Homo sapiens: one gene and its partners. The protein of the gene in region 1 purifies or fractionates together with the protein of each later gene. This does not show direct contact. Each region holds a gene or a part of one and is shown on either strand. Other genes may lie near its edges.

Region 1 (3,651 bases):
GAGGCAGCCCCTCCTGGTGCTCAGAGATTCTGTAGTCTGCGGCTTTGGGTTTTCCATGGAGTCCTGTGGTAGCCACTGAGAAAAGTTGACCAGTGGGCTCCTCAGCTGGGTCTGGGCGCATTTCTCCATTTTACCACGTACTCAGGGGGTTTGGGATGAGTGGGACTTTAAGTTCTTTACTCAGAACTGTGCTGGAAAGAGCACTGGAGAGTAGCTTAGGCCCATAACACAGGTCTGGTGAGCCATAGGGTCGGTCTCATACAGGTCAAGTCACTGTCTTGTGCCTCAGTTTCTCTCTCTCTTTTTTTTTTTTTTTTTTTTAGATGGAGTCTCACTCTGTTGCCCAGGCTGGAGTGCAGTGGTGCAATCTCGGCTCCCTGCAATCTCTACCTCTCGGGTTCAAGCAAGTCTCTGCCTCACCCTCTCGAGTAGCCGGGATTACAGGCGCCTGCCACCATGCCTGGCTAATTTTTTTGTATTTTTTAGTAGAGATGGGGTTTCACCATCTTGGCCAGGTTGGTCTTGAACTCCTGACCTCCTGATCCACCCGCCTCGGCCTCCTAAAGTGCGGGGATTGCAGGTGTGAGCCACTGAGCCCGGCCGAGTTTGTCTGCTATAAAAGTATGATTGTCGTCATTACAGTGATTGCTGATTGAGGGCTTGCTCAGCACCTTTCTGGGGGCTCAACGAATGTTCTGTGATGTTGAGTTCACCACCCTATACCCTGGGAGAGAGATAGTGTGTTTCCATTTCACAGGTCAGCAGACTCGAGCACAGAGAGGTGAGGTAACACAGCCTGGCAGGAGTGGAGTTGGGATTCAAGGCCTGGTCTGAATGGTGGTGCTCTCACATTGCAGTTGCACTCCAAGGGACCCTTGCAAGGTGCTAACAGATGTGAATGCCTTTTGGAAAGTCAAAATTGGTGTTCAGATGGGAGACATTATTTTTCCACACCAGTCAGAGTGAACTTGTGCATGGCTGTGTGCGGGCCAACTGGCAGTGGACAATGGAGTCACCTCTATTTCTTGCAAGGACAGTGGTGCTGAGTGTCTATTATAAGGGTCCGTTTTCCCTGGGATCTGGTGGGAGGCATTCTTTCAGGACCTGTTCAGCTAAACAATGCCTCATTGTGGACATGAAGGACTCTGGACCCTGTGGTTCAGGGTGACCTTTTGAACATGCTTAGCAGCCATTATTATAATAAATATACAAAATGAAAACTTGTGATAAAATACTGTGTGTATTCCCTGCTTACCAAGCGCCAGCCACTGTACCAAGTGTTGTATATTAACGAGCTAATTCAGTCCTCACAGTGACGCCATCCAGGCTCTCTTTCTCCATATTAGAGCTGAAGAAAAAGGAGTAGAGAGGTTGCGACTTGCCCAAAGTCACATACCTAGAAAGTGGTGGGGTGGGTTAGAACTCAGGTCTATTTGATTCCCGAGGCTTCCTGCCCAAGCACTGTCTGTCTCAACCCTACCTGGTCAAGCCAAGCAGTGAGGCTCCAGGGAACTTGAGGTGCCTTAGGTCAGGTAGGAGCCCCAGGTATGCCTGGGATCCAGACCATAGTGTACTGGCTGCCAGCGCAGGCCATCTCCCCTTGATAGGTGGGTGGGCAGGCTGCCCTGAGTCAGCAACCTCTTGAGCCCAGGAGCTCAGCATGGAACTCAGCTGTGCTGGTGGTGGCCCAGCTGCCAGGGTGTTTCAAAATAGAAGCTACCCCTGGAAAGCTCTACTGCCCACTGCGAGACTGTTGTGGAAGAATGGAGGGAGAGAACAGCTGCATTGGGTACGCAGACCTGCTACCAGAACACAGGGCCATCAGCCTTTGCCAGCATCCTGGAGCTTGAACCAGGAACTGTTCCCCTGGGTTGTTTCTTCCTGGCAAGAAAGAGAAAGTGCTGGAGTGTGTGTGTGTGCATGCGTGCATGTGTGTGAGCGAGCTGCTGATTGTGTTCGCCCCCATGTTGGCTTTTAGAGCTAGGGTTGCCTTCTGCTGGGGAAGTTGCTTTTCCTGGTCCTCAGGGCTAGGAAGAGGTGCTGTTTCTGTGATCACTGGCTGGTCTGATACCCCTCCTATAGGCTGGCCTAGTTCTGCCCTGACAAACCACCTAGAATGGTGTTGGTGAAACAGCGGGGCCAGAGACTTTTCCATAGTACTCTCTTCCTTGGCAGAATCATAAGATGATGGCAATGATGATGATGATGGTTGTGATTGCTCTGTTGGTTAGCGTCTTTGCAGGGATCTGGTGCACACTTACACTTGGTAATCCAGGAGAGTTTAATGAAGACATCATTTGCAAAGCTGTGGATGGGGTGTCAGGTCTGGTCTGTTAACACCCTGAGGCCTACAAGAGAGGGAGCTTCTTGGCAGGAGCTGTGGCCTTGGGTAGAGGAAGGTAGTCATTGCCCATCTGAAGCCTAGCAGGGAGGGAGACTCGGGGTGAGTACCCCGACTTCATTCTTCCCTAAACTCCCGTCTTCTGCAAGTACCTCACGTTGAAAGGCTAAGCCCAATCATAAGCCCATGGACAGCAGTCCATAATGATCAGTTCTGGGGGCACAGAGCAGGGTGGAAGGGAGGAGAATGGATCTGGAGGGGCAGACAGAGTATCCAGTGTAGTGGATTATGGTTATTACTGCCATTTGTTGAACACTTACTCCATGCCAGATACTTCTGCTGTTCTGCCTGTTTCACTCATTCCTTGTAACAACTTCCTTAGGCCTAAGGCCTTTCCTCCCAGCTGTTTTTAGCTGAGTCTTGGAGACCCATGGCCACCCTGCTCCCTGTATCAACCATTGCAGTAGTTGTTGGCTCTCTAGGGGTGCAAAGCTCATCTGCCTGAATCCTTCTATTATTACTATTTATTTCTTTTTATTTTTTATTTAAAAGAGACAGGGTCTCACTGTATTGCCCAGGCTGGTCTCGAACTCCTGCATTCAGGCGATCCTCCTGCCTCAGCCTCCCAAAGTGCTGGGATTAGAGGCGTGAGCCACCATGCCTGGCACATGCCTGAATCCTTTTGAGGGAGCCTCTGCAGAGAAGAGAGCATATTTCTACCAGGCGGGGGCCTGGTAGGTGCTTAGTGCAGGAACCGCCCTGAGCTGCTGCTTCTCAGTGGCACCTGGGGGCAGCCCTGCCTGTTAGGCACAGGCTGAGAGGTAGGGCAGGAGGAGTTCCATCTCTTCTGGCAGGCTCTTCTTGAACAAGCGCCTCCGGTGATTCTTGTGCACCCTGAAGTTAGGGAGCTCTTTCCTGCTCATGATTTCTGGCAGGGTGGCCAAGCCACTAGTGGTCACCTGGGAGTGAAATGTGCCCCGACGGACCTTGCCTGATAACTCTTCCATCTCAGTGTAGTTTAAATCTGTTCTTGCAATCTGTATGGACACTCTAGGTAGCCTTCTGGCATTGCTACTGCAGCAGCCTTGGAACGTGATTTGGGACACAACACAGCTCAATTTCAGGCACAGTGGTTGGCTTTTAAAGTGCTGTTTTTTTGGAGAGGGAGTCTCTCGCTCTGTCACCCAGGCTGGAGTGCAGTGGCACGATCTTGGCTCACTGCAGCCTTTGCCTTTGGGTTCAAGTGATTCTCATGCCTCAGCCTCCCAAGTAGCTGGGATTACAGGCACTTACCACCACGCCCGGCTAAT
Region 2 (3,651 bases), on another chromosome or scaffold:
ATCTTGACACTTTCCAGGTCCACACTAACAAAATAAAATAAGGAAGGGACAATTACTTAGGCCATTCAGGCAAACACAGGAGACATTTGGCAATGAAGTAAAACAGATAATAGCAAATTGGTTTTGTTTTAAGGTTTAGGGCCCTTTCACCCTATGTTACGGTTAGAGGAGGGTTTGGTCTTGTATCAGCTCTGCCACTTTCTAAAACTTGGTTATATTTCTTTTTTTCTTTGATGGAGTCTCGCTCTGTCATCCCGGTTGGAGTGCAGTGTCATGATCTTGGCTCACTGCAACCTCCACCTCCTGAGTTCAAGTGATTCTCCTGCCTCAGCCTCCCAAGTAGCTGGGATTACAGGCCCCAACCACCATGCCCGGCTAATTTTTGAATTTTTAGACCACCATTTTGGCAAGCTGGTCTCGAACTCCTGACCTCAAGTGATCCACTCACCTCAGCCTCCCAAAGTGCTGGGATTACAGGCATGAGCCACACACCCAGCTAAAACTTGGTTATATTTCAGCATGTCTAATAAAGATAGGGAAAGGAAGAATACAGACAGGCCTGCCTTAGAGATCATCATGAGCCTCAAATGAGATAAAATATATGAAAATGCTCTGTAACCTGTAAAGTACTGAACACTTAATAGCTTTTATGTGCTGGGGAAAATTCCTTCTTTGTTTTGTTTACAAAGTGATCTGCATAAGAATATCCCCTCTTGAGGTGATGGACACATGCTGGTGATGTGATGCGTGACTTTTTTTTTTTTTTTGTCCTAATTCTAGGGATGCCAAGGCCTGCGTAGTACACGGCAGTGATCTAAAGGACATGACCTCCGAGCAGCTGGATGACATTTTGAAGTACCACACTGAGATAGTGTTTGCCAGGACCTCCCCTCAGCAGAAGCTCATCATTGTGGAAGGCTGCCAAAGACAGGTCAGCCAGCACAAGGATCAGGCTGCTTTGGGCACTATTGGCTTTAGGGATTGGAGTTCCAGTGGAAACAGAGCAACGGTGATGGATGGATGCATACCTCGCTGTATTAGACTCAGTATAAATAGGCCAGTAGGAAGCTCATAGGCATAGAGAGGGTGACTTGTTAATGGTTTAGCAGTGACAGAAGCACTTTAAAGTCCAGGTGTCCACTGTGTCCCAGAGCCTGACCGCTCCGTGGAGTCATCTGATATGGGGTCCTAGTATTTGCAATAGAGATGTGAGTGGTCAGACTACAGGGCGTGCATACAGGAATGGCATTTTCTGGAGTGCCACCCACCAGAGTCATTACTTTGAGTAGCTCTTGTTAATGCTGGGGGCTATGTTTGTTGTCACTTCTCAGTTCTGTTATTTGGTGTAGGGCCTGTGTGAATACTTGCCTGTGACGGTTCTCAGGCTTCATAAATAGTCTCAATAGGAAAGGAGCAGTGTCTGTAATGAGTGCTCAGTGGGGGCATGCATCGCACTATTTCCATCGCTAGGAAAAGTGATTGGTATTAACCCGTTTTCCCTTTTCTGGGGTAGGGTGCTATCGTGGCTGTGACTGGTGACGGTGTGAATGACTCTCCAGCTTTGAAGAAAGCAGACATTGGGGTTGCTATGGGGATTGCTGGCTCAGATGTGTCCAAGCAAGCTGCTGACATGATTCTTCTGGATGACAACTTTGCCTCAATTGTGACTGGAGTAGAGGAAGGTGAGAGCTATTTAAGGTGTACACCAAGATCTTATTCAGATACTGCCCATTAGCATCCATTTCTGTATACTTCTTGGATATGTTCAGTTTCCAGTGTGCTTGTCTCATAAGCTAACAGTAAAAAATCTTGGTTTTCATAGGTCGTCTGATCTTTGATAACTTGAAGAAATCCATTGCTTATACCTTAACCAGTAACATTCCCGAGATCACCCCGTTCCTGATATTTATTATTGCAAACATTCCACTACCACTGGGGACTGTCACCATCCTCTGCATTGACTTGGGCACTGACATGGTGAGTGTCACAACAGTCACAGATCGATAGTAGTGAGGTGTGAGCTGTGTCTTCATTCACTGGCACTATGCTCCCAGCATCCATGAGGCTGGCGTTGGGAAAAGAAATTCTCAGGACCAGTATCCAGTGTGTGTCCCAATCCCGGCTTCACAGAATCAGTATTACCACTCTTCAAGGCAGCAGTTAACATTTGTTTATCAGATGGGAATCTTTATTTTTGTATACTTCACCTAAAAGATTTTTAAATGGGAGGGCAAGAATTTTATAACAAAAGGTTCACAATATTAGCTTCCTTATTTTTAGTAACTAAATTCCTTCTCCCCACCCCTTCCCAGGTTCCTGCCATCTCCCTGGCTTATGAGCAGGCTGAGAGTGACATCATGAAGAGACAGCCCAGAAATCCCAAAACAGACAAACTTGTGAATGAGCGGCTGATCAGCATGGCCTATGGGCAGATTGGTAAGCTGCAGCCTGGAGTGGGAAGCTGGCACATCTAAGGCATCTGAGGTGATGGTGTCCACCTCAGGTTGAGGTTGATTTCAGAGACTGCAAATCCAGGCGACTTTCAGGTCTAGGATGAGCCCTAACGGAGTGAGCCTGTGGAGTTTCTCTGAACTCTCTTCCATGTGAGAATACATCTGTTGCTGTTTGCCCAGTTACCTTTTGTGGAAACTGGTTTTCTATACTGAGCACCTTGGAACTGGGCTCAACTCTGCCTGAGAAATGAGGATGTCCTTCCTCACTGAGCCTTGCGGAACAGGAGGCATGGTTCTAAGGAATTGTGTGTACTGACGCACAGGCTGCTTTCCCTGGAGATACACACTTATCTGTCACTCACTTGGATGGAGTTAGGCATTGGAGAAAGTATATGTGTTTGAGAGTTTGGCTGGTAGGTCACCACCAAAGGGTGATCCTCCATCCACCTCACACTGGACTTCTGCCCCCACAGTGCAGCATGACTAGCTAACAGGTGATCCAGGTGGTGGGCAATCAGCATGCCATTTGTTTTTAAATCCTCTGCCTAGGGTTCCTTCAAGAGAACCTGGCAAAGCCACCATGGATGTCTTATTCTCCTGGATTAATGGGTCACATAACTGTGAACGCTTGGATAAAGAAGAACAGATTAGATAGAATATTGTGGAAATTATGGCAAAGATTCATTAGACAGTTGTTGGCAACAAAGTAATTGGCTGGTGGCCCATCCTGACCTTCTCCAAGGAGGCCTGCTTTTGAGAGGAAGGAAGACTAGGTCTCTGGTGGTTTAGGATGAAACCCTGCCCTGAGGAACTTGGAGCAGCGTGGTTAAATTGGATGCCAGGGGGAGGAGGGTCCTGAAGGTGGGGAGGAGAGTCAGAAAGTGCCACAGTGGCTAGAAAAATGGCAGCATGTAGGAATTTTGAAAGATGGAAAAGAAGTTATCATTTGTCAGAGATTAAAAAGTAGGGAAGTGGATTTCCCCTAAAGGTCATACCCTTAGAAGCAGCTGGTCAAGTAACAGGTGGGCATTTTGAGAGCAAGGCACATGTGTCTTTGTGTAGGCTCCAAAAAGTGACTCAAAAAGCAGAGGGCCCTGAGATTGGAGTGTATGCCTGGGGTCCTCCATCCCATCCCTCATAGCCTGTGAGTGACCAGGCAATTCTTTCCTGTGCTTTTATCAACCAGGGGGAAACACTC
Region 3 (3,651 bases), on another chromosome or scaffold:
CATCAAACATGAAAAATGATTATAAATGTTTAGAAACAAAAGAATAATAAATCTAAATAACAAATTTTTGAAAAAGATATTTTCAAATTCAAGGAGTAAAACATTTGGCCAGGCATGGTGGCTCACACCTGTAACACCAGCACTTTGGGAGGCTGAGGTGGGTGGATCACTTGAGGCCAGGAATTCAAGACTGAACTCCAGTCTGACCAACATGGCAAAACCCTGTTTCTACTAAAAATACAAAAAATTAGCCAGGTGTGGTGGTGCACACCTATAATTCCAGCTGCTCAGGAGGCTGAGGCAGGAGAATTGCTTGAACCCGGGAGCTGGAGGTTGCAGTGAGCCAAGATCGTGCCACTGCACTCCAGCCTGGGTGACAGAGTGAGACTCTGTCTCAAAACAATAAATAAATAAAAATAAAAATAAAAATTTTGACAGCAATTTTTTTTCTTCTATAAATTGATCTTCTAAAAAACCCAGTATCTTAGAATCAAATGTGATCTGGAAATGTACTTACGAGTCTGCGGATTCTGAAAGGCCACAGCTTTGTCAATCTTTAGCTGAGGCTGAAGGTCAGCTACTTCCCAACGACGAAATTCTGGTGCTGTGGTGACATTGAGCAGGAACTCCATTAGAATATCACTACAGAAGACATCGAGATAAGAATTATGAGTCAAAAATGTAAAGCCAACATTTGAGATTCTACATAGCTGTAATGCTCTCAATGTGAAACTTTAGGTCTTGTGGTAAGCAGTGTTTTTGAGCAGTTTATGAACAATAATCCAAAATGGAAGTCAGAGGTCATAATGACGCATTACAAAGACCAGAAGTGAGCAGCTTAGTATTTCTTTCAAAGCAGAAGTCCTAAACACACACAGGTACTTACACATCACCCCGCAGGCATTCCACAGTATAAGCCATGTTTTCCCTTGTTGCGGTCACACTGAATCGGAAAATAAACTAGAGTAAATCATCTGAATCAGGATAGTAAGCTTTCCCTTATAATCTTCTATCAACCAATTCCTTTGGAAAGAAAATTTCTGAAGTATAAAAGGTGCGAACAATAATATAACAAAACTCCACATATTAACCAACTAAAATTCAAAATTTTTTTAAAAACCAGCAAATAATTCAACCTTAAAAGGAGTGAAATCTGGTCACATGTTACAACACAGATGAACCCTGAGGACATTATGCTAAGGATAATAAGCCAGTCACAAAGGGACAAATATTGTATGATTCTACTTATGAGGTACCTGGAGTAGTCAAATTTGTAGAGACTGAAAAGAGAATGGCAGTTGCCAAAGGCTGAGGGGAGGGGAGAATGAGCAGCCATTGTTTAACAGGTACAGAATTTCAGGTGGGAGAAGATAGAAAAGTTCCGGAGCTGAATGTTGGTGATGGTTGCTGAATGCCACTTAACTGCACACTTAAGAAAATGATAAATTTGGGCCGGGCGCAGTGGCTCACACCTGTAATCCCAGCACTTTGGGAGGCCGAGGTGGGCGGATCACTTGAGGTCAGGAGTTTGAGACCAGCCTGGCCAACAGGGTGAAACCATGGTCTCTACTGAAAATACAAAAATTAGCCAAGCATGGTGGCGCACGCCTGTAATCCCAGCTACCACGGAGGCTGAGGCAGGAGAATCGCTTGAACCCAAGAGGCGGAGGTTACAGTGAGCCAAGATCATGCCACTGCACTCCAGCCTGGGCGACACAGCGAGACTGTCTAAAATATATATATATATATATATATATATATATATATATATATATAAATTTTATGTTATATACATTTGACCACAATTTTTTAAAATGGCAAATAAAGTTGAAGATCTTTTCGTACCCTTCCAAGACCAATTCCCTCACTCTCTCCCACTCTGGAAACCACAATCATAAGCACTACATAGTATTTTTCTGCTTAAAAAATTAAAATACCTTAAAGAAATCTTGAAACTTGCTTGTTCACACTCTATTTTGCCCTTCAGTTGTGCTATGTTGACGTATGGATCTAGTTCATTCCGTAATGGCTGTATAGTGGTCTCATCATGACTCTGTCATACTTTACCCATTTCCCTAAAGATGGACACTTAGATCGTTTCCAGTCTTTATAAAGAATACCTTTGTGAATGTGATTAAAAACTGTGGGGTTTTTCAATATTACCAGATATTCCTTGATTCTTTCCTAAGTGGTTGTATCAATTTATACTCCTATCAGCAGAATGAGACATTCTCTATCATCTTTACCACTGACAACACAATATATAAAAAATCTGGGCTGGGTGCAGTGGCTCACATCTGCAATCCCAGCATGCTGGGCTGAGGTGAGAGGATCACCTGAGGCCAGGAGTTCAAGACCAGTCTGGGCAACATAGTGAGACCTCCATTTGTACAAAAAATAAAAAATTAGCCAGGCATGGAGTCATGTGCCTATAGTCCTAGCTACTTGGGAAGCGGAGGGAGAAGAATCGCTTGGGCCCAGGAGTTCAAGGCTGCAATAAGGTATGTCTGCACCACTCCACTCCAGCCTGGGAAACAGAGCAAGACCCTGTCTTTAATATAAATTAATTAAAAAAAAAGAAATGCTGTTTCTGTCCTGAGTGTTCCACTGACCAGCTGCTCCCCAAGTCTTTCTCCCTCTCTTTGGATATTCCTACTCCTGAGACACAACAATATTGAAATTAAGCTAATGAATAACCCGACAATGGCCCCTAAGTATACAAGTGAAAGGAAGAGTCTCATGTCTCTCACTTTAAATCAGAAGCTAGAAAGGATTAAGCTTCTAAGGAAGTCAGGAAGGCATGTTAAAAACGGATACAGGTCAAAAGCTAGGCCTCTTGCACCAGTGCAGTTCTTGAAGAAAACTAATAGTGCTACTCCACTGAACACATAAATGATATGAAAGCAAGACAGACTTATTGCTGATAATACAGAGTTTTACTGGTCTGGATTAGATCAAACTGTATTCCCTTAAGTCAAAGCTTAATCCAGAGCAATGCCCTAACTCTCTTCAATTATATGAAGGCTGAGAGAGGTGAGATGCAGAAGAAAAGTCTGAAGCTAGCCGTGGTTAGTTCATGAGCTTTAAGGAAAGAAGCCATCTTCTTAATATAATAGTACACAGTGAAGCAGCAAATGCTAATATAGAAGCTGCAGCACGTTATCCAGAAGATCTACATAAGATCATCGATGAAGGTGGCTACACTAAACCACAGATTTTCAATGCTGACAAAACAGCCTTACATTGGAAGATGCCGTCCAGGACATTCGTAGCTAGAGAAGTCAATGCCTGGCGTCAAAGCTTCAAACGACAAGCTGACTCTTGTTGGGGACTAATGCAGCTGGTGACTTTAGGATGAGGTCATTTACCATTCTCAAAATCCTAGAGCCCTTAGGAATTATGCTAAATCTACTCTGCCTATGCTCTGTAAATGAACAAAAAAGCCTGGATGATAGTACATCTGTTTATAGCATGGTTGACTGAATATTTTAAGCCCATTGCTCAGAAAAAAGATTCCTTTCAAATTATTACTGCAACAATGCCAAGAGCTCTGATGCAGATGTACAAGGAGATTGACACTGTTTTCATGCCTGCTAATAGAACATCCCTTCTGCACCCCATGGATCAAGGAGTAATTTTTATTTTCAAGTC

Evidence for each region.
Region 2: the proteins of VDAC1 (region 1) and ATP1A1 fractionate together in Homo sapiens (co-fractionation; 3 studies listed by BioGRID, with this or other methods). This does not show direct contact.
Region 3: the proteins of VDAC1 (region 1) and UQCRC2 fractionate together in Homo sapiens (co-fractionation; 3 studies listed by BioGRID, with this or other methods). This does not show direct contact.

The regions. Positions count from the first base shown.
Region 1 is NC_000005.10:133,998,386-134,002,036, reverse strand, and holds part of VDAC1 (non-selective voltage-gated ion channel VDAC1), read left to right. Parts: intron 1-3,651. UniProt on the Homo sapiens protein: Non-selective voltage-gated ion channel that mediates the transport of anions and cations through the mitochondrion outer membrane and plasma membrane.
Region 2 is NC_000001.11:116,397,108-116,400,758, forward strand, and holds part of ATP1A1 (sodium/potassium-transporting ATPase subunit alpha-1), read left to right. Parts: intron 1-780; coding exon 781-931; intron 932-1,513; coding exon 1,514-1,682; intron 1,683-1,822; coding exon 1,823-1,977; exon of another isoform or gene 1,978-2,207; intron 2,208-2,312; coding exon 2,313-2,436; intron 2,437-3,651. UniProt on the Homo sapiens protein: This is the catalytic component of the active enzyme, which catalyzes the hydrolysis of ATP coupled with the exchange of sodium and potassium ions across the plasma membrane.
Region 3 is NC_000016.10:21,959,752-21,963,402, reverse strand, and holds part of UQCRC2 (cytochrome b-c1 complex subunit 2, mitochondrial precursor), read right to left. Parts: intron 944-3,651; coding exon 887-943; intron 643-886; coding exon 518-642; intron 1-517. UniProt on the Homo sapiens protein: Component of the ubiquinol-cytochrome c oxidoreductase, a multisubunit transmembrane complex that is part of the mitochondrial electron transport chain which drives oxidative phosphorylation.